Linked DNA regions of Homo sapiens. The protein of the gene in region 3 interacts with the protein of the main gene of each other region in a biochemical or structural test. Each region holds a gene or a part of one and is shown on either strand. Other genes may lie near its edges.

The links.
Region 1: of the proteins of MAP3K2 (region 3) and YAP1, one has a biochemical effect on the other in vitro, tested with the Homo sapiens proteins (one study listed by BioGRID).
Region 2: the proteins of MAP3K2 (region 3) and NEDD4 form a complex in vitro, tested with the Homo sapiens proteins (2 studies listed by BioGRID and IntAct, with this or other methods).
Region 4: the proteins of MAP3K2 (region 3) and IKBKG form a complex in vitro, tested with the Homo sapiens proteins (one study listed by BioGRID and IntAct).

The regions. Positions count from the first base shown.
Region 1 is NC_000011.10:102,204,353-102,207,946, reverse strand, and holds part of YAP1 (transcriptional coactivator YAP1), read right to left. Parts: intron 2,055-3,594; coding exon 1,873-2,054; coding exon of another isoform or gene 1,861-1,872; intron 1-1,860. UniProt on the Homo sapiens protein: Transcriptional regulator with dual roles as a coactivator and corepressor. Critical downstream regulatory target in the Hippo signaling pathway, crucial for organ size control and tumor suppression by restricting proliferation and promoting apoptosis.
Region 2 is NC_000015.10:55,857,613-55,861,206, forward strand, and holds part of NEDD4 (E3 ubiquitin-protein ligase NEDD4), read right to left. Parts: intron 3,167-3,594; coding exon 3,049-3,166; intron 2,963-3,048; coding exon 2,795-2,962; intron 1-2,794. UniProt on the Homo sapiens protein: E3 ubiquitin-protein ligase which accepts ubiquitin from an E2 ubiquitin-conjugating enzyme in the form of a thioester and then directly transfers the ubiquitin to targeted substrates. Specifically ubiquitinates 'Lys-63' in target proteins.
Region 3 is NC_000002.12:127,297,320-127,302,279, forward strand, and holds the end of MAP3K2 (mitogen-activated protein kinase kinase kinase 2), read right to left. Parts: 3' UTR 1,349-4,960; downstream 1-1,348. UniProt on the Homo sapiens protein: Component of a protein kinase signal transduction cascade. Regulates the JNK and ERK5 pathways by phosphorylating and activating MAP2K5 and MAP2K7. Plays a role in caveolae kiss-and-run dynamics.
Region 4 is NC_000023.11:154,557,526-154,561,119, reverse strand, and holds part of IKBKG (NF-kappa-B essential modulator), read right to left. Parts: intron 2,589-3,594; coding exon 2,470-2,588; intron 714-2,469; coding exon 561-713; intron 1-560. UniProt on the Homo sapiens protein: Regulatory subunit of the IKK core complex which phosphorylates inhibitors of NF-kappa-B thus leading to the dissociation of the inhibitor/NF-kappa-B complex and ultimately the degradation of the inhibitor.

The DNA of each region.
Region 1 (3,594 bases), on a different chromosome or scaffold from region 3:
ATCCTGTGCTTTGGCATAGAACTTGAGGCTGCTTCCTTAGTTTGTCAAAGAACCATATTTTGGAGTATCATTTTCTGAGCCCCAACAAGTTCCTGACATCGTATGTTGGCACATACTGTCTTACTCCTTCTATCAGGGTTTACCTTTGATGCCAATCACACTAGAATTGTATGGACAGATTACCGACAAAGCACAGTTTCAACGTGAGCCTGTCTCAGATGCCATGGCTTAATTTAACTCCTGAAGTACCAATTCCTCAAACCCCAAATCAGAGTTCAGGTAGTACTGAGTTCACATATTTTCACTGACACTCAAGAGATACTTTTAAAATACAGCCCTAAAAAAAACCCAAAAAACAAAAAACAGACCTTTAGGTGCCTCCTTCCTGGTAACAGAAATGTAGAGCTTTTTTTTTTTTTAAGAGACAGAGTCTCGCCATGTTGCCCAGGCTGGTTTCGAACTCCTGGGCTCAAGCAAACCTCCTGCCTCGGCCTCCCAAAGTGTTGGGATTAGAGGCATGAGCCACCATGCCTGGCCGAGTATGACGATTTTTAAATGTCTATACTTAGCATGCTGTGATTTAGCTAGGGAAAAAATGGCACAGATACATGTATTTTATGTATGTAAACAGAGTATCTCTGGAAAAATTAACAAAAAACAAAAAACCTAAGAAACTCATAGTTATTTAGGCCCCATAGGAGAGAACTAGAAAAACAGGGAAAAGATCTTATTTTGAGTGTACTTTCACCTCTGTACATCTATCACTAGTATACCATTTTTCTATTATCTATTCAAAAAAATTTTATATGGAAATTTAAAAATATCTACGCTACTTAACAAAAGACCTTATCTCCAATATCTGAACTTAGTAGATTTAACCACTCTGAAATAAGATAAAGTAAAAATTAATGTTGAGATTAATTATATATATTAGGAACATAAAAACCAACAGTACCTTCTGGAAGAAAGCTGATGGAATTGGTGATTAAAGGGCTTCAAAGCTCTCTACTATGTCCTACTTTCCCCAAAATAAAAAAACATCCATAAGCAGGTAATTTTAAAGCACACTGGCATCTTCTAAACTTGAAGATAACTTTTTGTTTTTGAGACAGAATCTCACTCTGTCACCCAGGCTTGAGTGCGGTGGCACAATCTTGGCTCACCGAACCTCTGCCTCCGAAGCTCAAGTGATTCTTGTGCCTCAGCCTCCTGAGAAGTTGAGATTACAGGTGTGTGCCACCACGCTTGGCTAATTTTTTTATTTTTAGTAGAGATGGGGTTTCGCTAAGTTGGCCAGGCTTGTCTTGAACTGGCCTCAAGTGATCTGCCCACCCTGGCCTCCCAAAGTGCTGGGATTACAGGCATGAGCCACCGCACCTGGCCAAAGGTAACATTTATTTTGTTTTCAATGAAAATTCTTAGATTCGGTAATACCGAAGTATATTTGTCATTTGAGAAATGTCATATTGGTGTATCCCGCCACGTAAGTTATTAATAAAGGATGTTTTCTCCTGAGTGATGTTCTAGAATTTCCCCTTTAGTGAAATCCTCAGAAAAACAGCAATCCACAATTCCATGTACATTAGAGAAAGCATCCTTGCTTCCTTCAATTTTTGCTCAATTGCAATGACCATGACCAAAACAGCTCTTCATGATACAGGTTTCCAAGTCACATCCCTTGTAACTTGATCAAAGGCCATTCACAGTCACAAAACTAAGACAAGGACAGGGCTGGATAGAATGCTTCTGTGTCACTCAGTTTTACAAAGACAACATTCCTCTGTAACTAATAAATGTTAAAATGAAATCTGCCCAACTTTAAGAAAACAAACCCCCAAAAGTGGAAGGCTGGTTTCTAACCTGTGGCCTCACCTGCCGAAGCAGTTCTTGCTGTTTCAGCCGCAGCCTCTCCTTCTCCATCTGCAGTTGCTGCAGTCGCATCTGTTGCTGCTGGTTGGAGTTGCTGCCACCCATGACGCCTCCCTGTGGGCTCTGGGGAGCCAGGGGTGGTGGCTGTTTCACTGGAGCACTCTGACTGATTCTCTGGTTCATGGCTGAAATGAAAAGAAAAAAAAAATCTGTCCTAAAAAACTAGTGAAGGAAGATAAAATGATGATTTAATTATTCAAAAGCAATTTGGGATATTCGATGTAACTTTTTTGGGCAGGAAGACTGGAAATAACCTAAAAATCCATCAATATCACAATGACTACATTAATTTATTATTACTGTTGTCACAAGATACAAGGAAGTCATAAGAGAAAAGAAACAAGACGTAGTTTTAACATGCAATAAGGAACAGTTTCTAAGGACTTACTAAATTAAAAGCAAGGTGCAGAAGAGAAAGTGTTTAAAAAAAACGGGGTGGGGGAAGGGAGCGGGGGTGAATATATTGCATATTCAGAGGATATAAAAATTGATGAATAGCTAAGAAGCAACTAACATCTTTTGGCTCCAGAGATGGGAAACTGGGTGACTAAAGGACAAAGGTGGAGAACCTTATTTATAACTTCTGAAGTGTGAATGATGCAAATTCATTACTTCTTATGAAATATATAAATTAAAAATTCATCCACAAAAATTAAGACAAAGCATTCCAAACAGCAAAGCCCATCAAAATAATCAGCCCTTAATATATCCACATACACATCCCAATAAAGCAAGTAGATTAAAATGATCTGATGCTTGCTCATATCAAATTGAGTCCACAAGTATCTGGATGACATGGATTTGTCTCATTTGACACCATGGTAACCCCCAGCACAAAGCCTAGGTAGTAAAAAAAAAAAAATTTTTTTTTGAAGCTGTAATACACCATTTGGTGGTTAGAAATGGACTGGGTTTTTATACTAGTGAATTTCTGTCACTGATACAACACTGATCAAACTGTGAATTAACCTCAGTGAGCAGAGGGAAGTTTTATGTGAAAATGTTAGTAAGAATAATAAACCTTTTCAGATACATATTCAACTTAAGTTGAAATTTTGGGTCACTGTTTCTACTAAATGTTTAGTACACATTGACTAAAGAAAACCCCAGGTCCCAATGGCTTTGCAGTCATTCAAGGAAGAAATAATACCAGTCTTACACAGCCTCTTCCAGAGCATAACAAGGAAAGAATACTTTCCAACACTTATAAGGCCAGCATAACCTTGATACCATACAAGGATATTAAAAGAAAGGAAAATTACAGGCCAATCTCTCATATAAACCTTGCTACAAAAATCCTAAATAACATACACTGACAGCTCTTATAACTTAATGGTCTCCCAGTCACACAGCAAACTCCTTGTGATTTTTAATGTGTCCCATTATAACAGACTGGCTGCTTGGTAAATGCCATTTCTTCTTGGAGACTACTTGAGCAAAACCTCACAAGGCTGGGCCCATCCTATACATTAAGAATTTTCTTCTCTCAAGGAATTGCCTGGGAACTTTTCCATATTGTCTACTGACATTTATTGCCTGATTCTAATTTTTTACTTACAAATTTATATGCTCCCTCAGACTGAGTGCCACAGGAGTATGGGTCATATCGTAGTCATCTATGTGTCCTCAATACCTAGCACAGCATCTGGCACAAAGTGTGCGCTG
Region 2 (3,594 bases), on a different chromosome or scaffold from region 3:
ATGCCCAGTCTTAAATTTTATTTTATATACCTAAATACAATCTCAATTTGTAACCATAACCATACAGTGCTTTAAAAATATTTTTTAAAATAGGTAACACTCATACATGTTATAAAATTCAAAAGGAGCCTGGGAAACAATACTATACCAAGTCTTTACAAAAATTTTTTAAAAAAATTAGCAGGGGTACAATGGCATGTGCCTGTAGTACCAGCTACTCCAGAGGCTGAGGTGGGAGAATCCCTTGAGCCCAGAAATTTGAGGTTGCAGTGGGCTATGATCATGCTACTGCACTCCAGCCTGGGCGACAGAGTGAGACCCTATCTCAAAAAAACAAAAGGTACAAACAATATATATCCTGCTCATTCTTTGCCTCTCTTCAGAGGCAAGCAAAGTTATTAGTTTCCTGTTTAGTCCTCGAGTAAATTATACACATATTTATGCTCTGCATTTAAATAATTTACATAAATTCTGGTGTAACAAACACACTGTTCTGTACCTTGCTGTTTTTCATTTACCAGCATCTCTTAGGGATTGTTCCATCCAACATATACACTCGAGCCCACCTTGTTCTCTTCAATGGCTGCATAGTATTACACTATATGGTTGCCATGTATTACTTTAAGTAAAAAAAATACCAGGAAGAAGGGGAATGGGATCGTATGTGATTTATCATCAGCAAATCAATATGGTTTATTCTTTTTTTTTTCTTGAGACGGAGTTTCACTCTGTCACCCAAGCTGAAGTGCAATGGTGCAATCTCGGCTCACTGCAACCTCTGCCTCTTGGGTTCAAGCCATTCTTCCAATCTCAGCCTCCCAAGTAGCTGGGATTACAGGTGTGCACCACCACACCGAGCTAATTTTTGTATTTTTAGTAGTGACAAGGTTTCGCCATGTTGCCCAGGCTGGTCTTGAACTCCTGACTTCAACCCATCTATAATCCCAGCCTCCCAAAGTGCTGGGATTACAGGCGTGAGCCACCACGCCTGGCCTAATGTAGTTTAGGTCTTTGACTGACCTGTCCCACTCCCCTGTGAAAAAATGAAATGAATGGAAGACAGAACAGACAAATGGAAGAAAGGAAGGGCAGGAGGCAGGCAGGCGGATTTACTGGCAGATATTCATATTCACGTACAACTATCTACTGTGAAGCTTCTTGAAGAAGATGCTAGAGCAGAGGTTAGCACACATTTCCTGTTAAGATCCAGACAGTAAATACTGGCTGTGGGCCATATGGTTGCTGCTGTAACTACTTTATTCAGATGATGTCGTGTGAAAGCAGAGATGGGCAATACCAAAACAAATGATGTGGCTGTATTCCAATGGTAATTATTCATAACAGGCAGCTGCTGATTTGGCCCACCGGTTGTAGTTTGCTTTCCTCTGCACTAGAATGTAAGTCCCATGAAGGCAGGAGATATTGTTAATTTTATTGACTGATGTATCCTCAGTAACTAGCATATAGTACTCTGCATATATGTGATCAGCTCTCATTAAATATTTACTAACTAAATGAAAGGCAGGGAAACCTCAACTGGAAATGACAAATAGCATCCTCAGAGAATAATCTTTGTCTTCTACTCAATCTCCCTTGATGATACATATTAGACAGCTAGCTATGAAGTTCTCATCGTGGAAGCATATGCTGGGATACTTTATTCTGAACCCTATGGACAACAGTTTTTACAGTGGTGGCTGAAGTGAAAATGTCATCTATCTCCTTGTTTAGTCAAAGTATATCAGTTCTTATTCATATATACCTGTTGGTGACATCTGTGATATAATGTTAAAACTTCAGGCCAGAAGCAGTGGCTCATGCCTGTAATCCCAGCACTTTGGGAGTCTGAGGCAGGTGGATCACTTGAGGCCAGGAGTTCAAGACTAGCCTGGCCAACAGGGTGAAACTCCTCCATCTCTACTAAAAATACAAAAATTAGCTGGGCGTGGTGGTGTGCGCCTGTAATCTCAGCTATTCAGGAGGCTGAGGCATGAGAATCGCCTGAAGCTGGAGACGGAGTTTGCAGTAAGCCGAGATAGCACCACTGCACTCCAGTCTAGGTGACAGAGTGAGATGTCTCAAAACAAACAAACAAACAAGCAAACAAAAAACCAACTTCAGCATAACTGGGAGAGAGAAAAGCAGTCCCTAACATCCAAGAGCTGGCCTGGCACTCATAGGTAAGATCAAGACAAAATCAAGACCACTCTGTAATCGTGGCTGAATATAGACAAAACATGAACATTGTCCAAGCCACAAAATACCAAACATTTCCCCATCCTGGCAAATGTGAGTGACTGTTCTACTTTGCTAATCATAGCTTTAGCCTCACTACAGATAAGATTTGAGATACAAAATCATAGAATTATCCCTGCTTCCCAACAGCATCTCATGTAGAGCAAAGTCCTGCTTCCTAAAACCCTCTTCAAAATCACCTAACAGGAGCCCAAATCCCTGAAGTCTTTTCTAACATTCTGCTACCAAAACACCAATGGTGCGTGTTCTCCCTTGCTGAAATGAATAATAAACCCAACTTGTTCAATGACAAATGTGTCCCTAGTGATTTTTGACTGGAGGGCACTGACATAATGGAAATTTGGATGCCATGACTCTGGTCCATACTACTAATGAGGATATTTGAAAAATGACCATGTTGTAAAGTCCCAAGGTCCCTAATGTATTATTACATATTATTGCATTTAAGACAAAATTTTACATAAAAGTTAGTTGTTGAATAGTATAATATGCATAATATAAACTACTGAAGCCGTAACAAAATCTAAGAGCATCTTACTGAGCTCGATGCTGGCTGGCTCACGGCTGAATTTCCAAAAATGGTGAGTCTGGCATTCAATTCTTCTGCAAGATGAGTTGGAACATCCAAGTTACTTGACGGTGGAGGTGATGGGAAGGCCTGGTTGCTATACATGGTGGCTTCATCTTCTCTTATAATTTCCCAGTTCTAAAATGAACAGAATAAGCTTGAGCCACACATACTTTATTGCTATAGCATGTGTCTTTCAAGGAGAACTAGGAAACTACTTATACCTCGGAAGACTCTCGGTTGTCAACACTTTCTGTTTCCTCGGATATCTGCCGCCTGGTGGTAAATGCACGTTGTGCTTGCAGTTGAATGTTGCCATTCTCAGCATCTGTTAGGTTGTCCCTATATTGGAAGTATAAAAAGCCATCATCCATGTCTTAAGTAGTTAAAATGATTGTCAAAGATTCTGTGATCATTGGGAAAAAAATCTACATTACATCAATAAAAAAATTTATTGTCTTTGACCAAAGGCTATTTCAACATGCAAAGATTCAATCATGGGTAGGCAGACTGGTATATTTAGAGTACCTTACGGAGTTTAAGGTTTTGTGAAAAGGTATAACATGTCTGATTTGATATTTTAGTTTGTCACTATGTCTAGGATAATGTCCAACACATATAGGTACTCAAAAATATTTGTTGAATGAATAAATATCAGAGCGCTTCATAGATTATTTCATTGTATTATTTTGCCATGTTATTATAAGAGTAATAGAGTTACACATACATACATCTTTGTGAATCAGATAGTACATTTTCTAGAATTGGTC
Region 3 (4,960 bases):
AACGCCATGGAGCACATGTAGTCCCAGCTACTTGGGAGGCTGAGGTGGGAGCCCAGAAGTATGAGGCCAACCTGGGCAACATAGTGAGACCCAATTTCTAATATATAAAAATAAGTTGGAAGAGGCAAGGAAAGATTCCCTTATGGGTGTCAGAAGGAGCATGGTCCTGCCCACACCTTGATTTCTGACTTCTAGCCTCCGTAACTGTGAGACAATAAATTTTTTATTATAAGCCACCTAATGTGTGGTACTTTGTTACAATAGCCCCTATTGTTGGACATTTAGAGTTTTAAGTTTGGGCTTTTATAGATACAACTTAAAACATTCACAATCTATTTCCACAGGTTAATTCCTAGGTATAAATTGGTGGGTCAGAGGATATACAAGGTTCTGAAATTTAAGACAGGGTCTCGTTCTGTCATGAAGACTGCAGTGCAGTGGTGCAATCTCAGCTCACTGCAACCTCTGTCTCCCAGGCTGAAGCGACCCACCCACCTCAGCCTCCTGGGTAGCTGGGACCACAGGCATGCACCACCACACGTGGCTGATTTTTGTATTATTTGTAGAAACAGGGTTTTACCATGTTGCCCAGGCTGGTCTCAAACTCCTGAGTTCAAGTGGTCCACCCACCTCGGCCTCCCAAAGTGCTGGGATCACCATGCCCGGCCAATTCTGAGGTTTCTGATTCTGATTCTGAGGTTTCAATTCTGAGGTTGTGTTAAGTTGCCCTCTATACCAAAGTATTAAATTATCTCCGCCAGGCGCAGTGGCTCACGCCTGTAATCCCAGCACTTTGGGAGGCCGAGGCGGATGGATCACGAGGTCAGGAGATCAAGACCATCCTGGCTAATATGGTGAAACCCTGTCTCCACTAAAAATACAAATAAAATTAGCTGGGCATGGTGGCAGGTGCCTGTAGTCCCAGCTACTCAGGATACCGAGGCAGGAGAATGGCCTGAACGCGGGAGGCAGAGCTTGCAGTGAGCCGAGATCATGCCACTGCACTCCAGCCTGGGCGACAGAGCAAGACTCTGTCTCAAAATAAATAAATAAATAAATAAATAATCTCCAGCACCATGTGAGAGACCATTCCTTATACTCAGTAGGTTTGATAGTAGGGTTTGTGTTTGTTTTTAATCATTAGTTCTGATTTAGGTAATCAAGATGTCCAGCCAAAGATATACTACAAGTTGGGTGGAACATTATAGACTTAGATACTGGAAAGATTTGGTTTAGTTTCATTGTTTTTAGATTTGTCTGCGCTTGGTTTCCTAGAGAGTGCTCAACTCAAGCAAGGAGGGAATAACTGTAAATAAAATGTGTCCAAGAATAGATTTGGAAAAACCAATCACAGTGGAAATAAATATTAGCTTTATTAACACTCAAAGTGCCATTCATTTATATTCATTCCATAGTCCAGAAGGTTACTTATTAGAGTAAGCCTTTGCACCACAATCTTTCAAAAAAATGAACATGTAAGAAAAAGCAGTTTTCATTGTGCTAATTATTGCAGGCCTTCATGCACGTAAACCTCAACAAAATGTGTGCCAACAATATACAAATTTCCATATAAACAAAGTCATTGATCACTAACAAAATATAAACATGGTTTCTTTTATATTAGATTTTTTTTTAAAAAAAAGCTATTTACCAGCAAGAAAAAACAAGTACCTAGAAATTATAAAACTCAGAAATTGTATACATTTTTACAAGCACAATTTTGAATGACAAACAAAATCAAAATGTGCATGAAATGTTGCACGTACCACACTGTATCTGGCTTCTGGTAGGTTTTCCTAATCACACTGGTTCCTTTTAACATAATAAGCTTAGTGACATTCAACTTCAACAGTGGACTTTATTCCTAACACGAGTAATTTTACATGGTACCGCATATTTAAAACAAAGTTTTCTTTAATACTACATTGTCTGATTGGAAATTTCATTTCCAATTCTTTTTCTGCCAGTTACTTAAAACACACAGTACAATATAAAGACACACAACGTATGTTTGGACATTTCAAAACCAATTTATAGTCAATTACAAAGAATCACAATATGCCAATATATTGTTTTATAAACCCAGTCTGACCTTGCCCAGTGATAGAAAAACTAAAAGTTGAAATCTTTTGGGGTGGAATACAGGAAATATTCAAAGACAACAGTAGGACAGGCCAATAGCAACTGGAGATAGAAAAATCTTGACATCTCGAGACAATTTAGTTTCTCACATTTTTCCATAGCTCTGAGAATTCAAAGGCCATTTTTAGCGGTGTGTTTTTGCTACTGCTTAAAACCTATTTTTCCCTTAATTTGCATTTCACGGAATTCTCAAAGAGAATTTAATGCTTTTTCTTGCAAGAGTATTTTAATTGAGCTCTAAGTATGACTTGCATTCAATTCTGAAAATACAAATACATTTTGAATGGCTAAAAACAAAATTTTAAAAATACTTTTGATCAGCCAGCTGAAAATATATTCATATAGTAAATAATCTCTCAGAAAGCTTTTATATATATTTAATTATCACAACTAAACAGTACCCTTATAAAACAAGTTCATAAAAATGTAGAAATGAAATGAAAATAAGAACTTACTGGGATATATACATGTGCCTACAGACAGAAAAAAACATCTCCACACAAACATACATCCCCTGATACACAGTTAAAAGCATACTTTCAACTTAGTAATGGATTTTATAATACATTATAAAATTTTCTAATTTCTATTAATGTCGAACTCCTGAGTTCTTCAACAAAGAACCATAGATAAGTATAGTTTGTAAAAGCAAAAAGGTCCATTTAAGTCAGTAATAGCAGTGCAGTAACTGATGGCTACATCTTGAAAGAAGTTAAAACATAAAGACACAGACAGTAGTTCAATGCACGCATTCATGATGCTCATACACTCATCAACAATTATTGGTCAGAGTAGTAAATCAGTGTACAAATTAAACATTTCCAAAAATGTGCAAAAATGTCAATCTTAATAGGAAAAAAACCCTTTGTACATAATTATAAACTGCCCAGCATTCAACTGAGATTAAAAACATTTAGAGAGAAACCAATAGGTTAAATATAGAGAATTTAATGGCTACATTTAAAAATGTACATTATTATGTCAAAGGGTAAATTTACAAATTGATAATCATAGTTTGCAACAATTCAAAGTTTATTCTCAAATTTATCCAAGTTTACTTTTATTTACAATGAATAAAAAGAACCATGTGAAATGTAAGAGATGTCAGACATTAAAAGTATTTTTGGTATTAACTCTTATAATATTTCAGAATTCAGGGTAGCAAATTTTAAAACCAATAACAATAGAAAAAATGTAAACCATTTACTAATTAAGATTGCATTAAAACAATTGTTGGTCTTTAAAGAAGTATTCTTATCCTTAGACACTGTACTTTCAATTGAATAGGGTGTATTGCAAGAATTTGGCCCACTTCATATTGCCCATAAGCCTCTCCAGCTCAAATGTTTCAACTAGTCCTCTCTTCTTATTCCAGGTGGAAAAAATTCTTTGGAAAAGTAAGAATACATCAAATCCATTTTGTAGTCTATCTAATAGAGTTTAAGGTGTAATTTTGTTTCTTCTCCCCTCCAAGTAAAGCTAATGCTAAAATCATCACTAGTTACATATGCTTTTAAAAAATAAATTCTAAAAAAATATTTAAAAAGAAGTGAACTTAAAAGTGCTTTTCGGTATGGTCATGAACTTTACTGTTCTCAACTGCATTAAGGGATTCTCAACTGCATTAAGGGATTCAGAAATTATTTGGGGACAAGTCCTGTACATATAGTAGAAGCAGATACTTCCTTATGTTCCAAAATGTCTATGGCACAAAGCAGACATCAGTCCAGAACCTACTTTTCCTCACAGCTTTGCTGAAATGCCCCTCAAGTCAAACATAAGTTCATAAATGTTAAGACACTAGGAAGAAAGTTCGCCATCAACCTGAGGCATCAGACGTTAATGTCTGTCTATGTGAATCAGTGGTCAAGTGACATTAACAAGATTGGCACATGTACAAGCTTAAATTCATGTCTACATAGTTCCTCAATAGTGGAAGTAACTTCTGGATGTCTAAATGCACTGATCACCTGTCCTTTTCCTTGAAGGATATACCAGAATACAAATTCTACTAGTATCTGCTTTATAATTTTTATACTATTAGCTTACAAGTGGACAGAAGTAACAGTGCTAATTATTTTGGCTATGTGTACAGGGAATATAAAAGCTTTGGTTTAAAGTGATTCTGATAATACAGATTGTGTTACAAACAAGAAGTCATCAGGCAGAAGGAACAATGGTACTGATTTAATGCCTTTGCTGTTATTAACAAAAATACCATATGACTATCAATTAAAATGCACAATTATGAAAAATAAGAATTCTATGAGACTGTATACAGGCAACAGATAAAATCTATTCTTTTCTTTACTGTAGCTATGACTCCTCCCTCATCTTTCTGAAGCTCAACCTTGAATGCTTACAGGACCACTGAAAAAAGAATCTCTAGGCTCCCCCAAGAGCTCATTTCCATCAACAGCTCTGGAAGGTGAGTATGGGAAGATGGGAGGCCCTGATACTTCCCACACCTACCATGGCATCCTGTCCAAACCATGGCAGAAGTCAAAGCCAAGCCAAAGACAACTATAAGTAGGAATAGCTGCTTCACAGCATGCTTCCCCTAGCCAACCAAAAAGAGGTACAAGAGAATTTCCTTGTGAATACTTGGTAAGCTAAGGAAGCTTATTTTGATAATGTTTGGCAGAATTTCAGTTCCAAAAAGTTCAGGAAGAACTATGTAAAATCAATTACTTTCTATTTAAGAATTATATATAAGATTATTTTACATATACACAAATTGAATTTTAATCTACCTTTAGCAACCAAGAGTATGGCAATTTACAATCAATATTATTATACAATCATTTGTACTAGCTAC
Region 4 (3,594 bases), on a different chromosome or scaffold from region 3:
TCACAAACAGCTCAGAAAGGCAGGGGAACTGTTCTAGATTAAAGGAGACTGAAAAGGCACGCCAAGGACAGGAACCTGAGGTCCCAGATTGGATGCTGGTAGACGGGGGGGTTTGGGGGTATTTTTGTTGTCTTTCTGTTGCCCAGGCTGGTCTTGGAACTCCCGGGCTTAAGCCATCTACCCACTTTGGCCTCCCAAAGTGTTGGGATTACAGGCGTGAGCCACAGCACCTGGCCTAGAAGGGGTTTTAAAGGACAAGTCCCCTGATGACCTAGTGGCTAGGAAAAAAAAACTACAAAAAAGGCCACGTGTGGACACGCAGTGAAACGTGGTCTGGAGAGCAGATGGCATGACTGTATCAAAGACAAACCGGGTGTCATCATGGTCGCCTCTACCGTTAGCAAGGCTAAGGGACAGAATGGGCCCACAGCCACAGGCAGAATCTGAAGGAGTCCTCAGAAGGCAGAAAGAACCATGGACCCGACACTTCTCAGCCTTTCGGCTAAGATCAAGTGTAGAACCACAGACCCTGCGGTGCGGCCCCGCCCCCGCTGACTCACTTCTCCTCCGAGGCGGCCTGGCGCTCCATGCGGAGCGCGGCCTCCACGCTCTGGCCCTGCATGCGCAGCTGGTCCACCTGCACGCTGTGCTGCTGCTGCAGCGCCTCGCGCTCACTCTCCAGCTGCCGCGCCTGCTCGCTGGCCGCCCGGGCCCTGGCACGGGGAAAGAGCAGACTCAGGGAGGACGAACGGGGGGACGGCAGGGGCTATGCGCAGGGCGTGGGCGGGGGGTGGGGGTCGGCTCTGAACACCCTGTGACTGCGAGCTGATGCCAGGCGGCAGGGTGGAGGCACCGTCAACAGACACGAGGACAACTGCAGGGGGCCAGGTGGGAGCAGCAGGTGAGGAGCTTTGCTTAAGACGTGTTTGCTTCAATGCAGGGGCCCAGCAGGTGACCAAGTACAGATGGCAAGGAGACCTGGAAGCCAGGGGAAGGGGGTGGTCCGAGAAAAGGATGGGGTCGCCTGCATCCCGCAGTGCTGGGGCCAGGTGAGAGGAGCCCTCGGAACTGCCCGTGGAGTTCCACTGGGGGACTGCTGGGGGCCCCAGCAAAAGCAGTCTCAGTGGAGGGGGTCAGGAGAGACTGCTGTTCCAAAAATGAGAGACTGCCCACCTGGGCGTGCAAGCACTGAGCTCAATGCAGACCGGGCCTCGGCCCCATCCCTGCTGCTGCCCAGAGCTCTGCTGGAGTCCCAGACGACCTGCTCGGATGCTCAGTTCCCACACCTGCCCCCCTACAGCTCCCTTAACCTCCAGTTTCCAGGGTCTGGCCTCATCCCACCACACCAAGCCCTTCCACAGCCTCACTGCAGGGACAATGGTGGGTGCATCTGTCCAGGTCCTGGGTGGCCTCTGGCCACAGGCAGACACGGCCCTTCTCCAGTCACCCCAACTCTGCCTGGCAGGCCTGGCTGCTTGGCTCTCCCCTCCGCGCCTGCCTGCATACTGCCCCCACACCCTGCACGGGTTCCCTCTGCCCATCAGAGCCTGGGTCAAGCTCCCCTCCCCTCTGCCCTGCTGGCTGCCCCAAGTGCACCTTGACCGCCTACTGTGCTGGGATGGCTGGGGCCCCCCTGGCAGCTGATCCATCTGTCTGGAGGGCAGAAGCAGGACCGAATGAGAACCACAGAAACCTCCCTGCCCTTTGACCCAATGGTCCCACTCACAAGAACCAAGACCCCTTTGCAAAAGAGAGTAACCAGCAGGCCTGAGGCCACCGGCTGGCAAGGTTGGCCCTTGGCTGGTGAAGTTCCCTTGCCACAGTGACACTTTCTCTAGTGGTCAGGTCGGTCCCTGCACCTAGGCCATTTGTAGGAAGAACGTGGTTGACGTGAGCACCCGCTCTGCTGCTGGGAGTCGGGGATTTAGGTACCTGCCTGGCAGAGGGCGCTGACAGGACCTGCCCCCAGTAAACACCCAGGGCGCTGAGTCTCTAGCGGGCATCCCTGGGCAGGAACACGGCCCGTGTGGGAGGCGCTTCTCACTGTGCCGCTCGCAGGGCAGCGGGAGGCTGGGACAGGGCTTCTCCAACTCCCCCCACGGCTCCTGCCCTGGCGGCTCCTGCCCTGTGCCTTTTTCCCTGTCATCAACCTCAGCCACGAGGGCGACTGTGCGCCGGTCCCAGAAGTCCTTCCAGAGAACTAGACACTGTGGGTGTGGGCTCGGGGCCCCCAGAATGCCTCCTAAGGAAATAATCCAAACTCCATCAAAGGGTCACAGAGTGCGGAGAGCCGGCTGGGACCCAGGTCCCGGATGCCTGGCCCAGACCTCTCCCGACGTCTGCCCCGACGTCTTTACGCAGCCTGCCCCGGTCTATCCTCATCAAGGAGCACCCTGGAGGCCCCTAAACCCACCTCATTGCTTTTGGAAACCCTGGAAGGGGTCTCCGGAGCCGGCTCCCCCGACTCACCGACCCTCCAGAGCCTGGCATTCCTTAGTGGCAGCCTCCAAGCGACTCTGGCTCTCCTGCAGCTCCCCGAGCAAGGACGTCACCTGGGCTTTCACAGAGGCCTTGTCCTCAGCCATCTGCTGCAGGATAAAAAGCCACTTCCTGTCAGCACTGCTTTCTCCCCAGCGGCCCACTCCTGCCATCCGCAAGCCCGGGGCAACCCGCAAGCGGCTGAGGCCTGCGCGCCATGAGGCCTTTTTTCCTGCCCTCGGCACCCCCAAACCTGGGTGCCCTAGGGCCTCATGAGCCCAAGGGCCACCCAACCCTCCCCAGCTGCCCACCTTAACCCTCTGCCACAGGGTGACACACAGATGGGGCAAAAAGAGATCCCCAAAGAGACGAAGGAGCACAAAGCTGCCTTGAGGTTGTCAACGGCTTAGTCACTGCCCCGGCAAGCAGGCCTCGAGGGCTGAACCCGGTGGCCTTGCAGCTACAGCCCCAGCAGGGGATCTCTCTCCGTCTCTCTGAGACTTGGGACAAAAGGAGGCCAGACACGAATAGGGCAAAGTAAACACAGGCCCCAGTCCACACCCGGGGCCGCCAGGATGGGAGAGTTTGTGCAGATCAAGAGTGGACACTGAATTTTGTTAAACACTGGGAACTGCAGAACCTCTCGGCAGGCACACTGCACTCAAACCCCTGCCCGAAGACACCCGGCCACCACCTCGCGGGGCCTCTGGGAGCCTAAGGCCGCGCCCCTGGGACGCCCCAGCCCCCTTTTGAGTGAGTTCCCGTCTGGAAACGCTCAGGGCTGCCCAGAGCATGTACTGTCTGTTCCGGCCAACACCTGACCTCCCTTTCTGACAGCATTTACTACAAAGGGCTTACCCTGTCCCTTTGAGACATCTGTGTAGCACCCACAACCCAGGGGCTTTCCCGAGGGCCCCGCAGCCACTCCTTGGAAACGGAAACCTCAGGAGGCGCGGGGCCCAGTCTCCCAGTCTCCACGGGACGGAAGCATCCCAACCTTGGTAAGCACCGGCAGCTCCCACACACGGCTGGCCTCGCGGCAAGGACGCTGGCTGCCCCGTCATCTTTCACCTGAGCCTGCACTCGCCCCCTCCCGACTCCCTCCTTCTCCCTTCG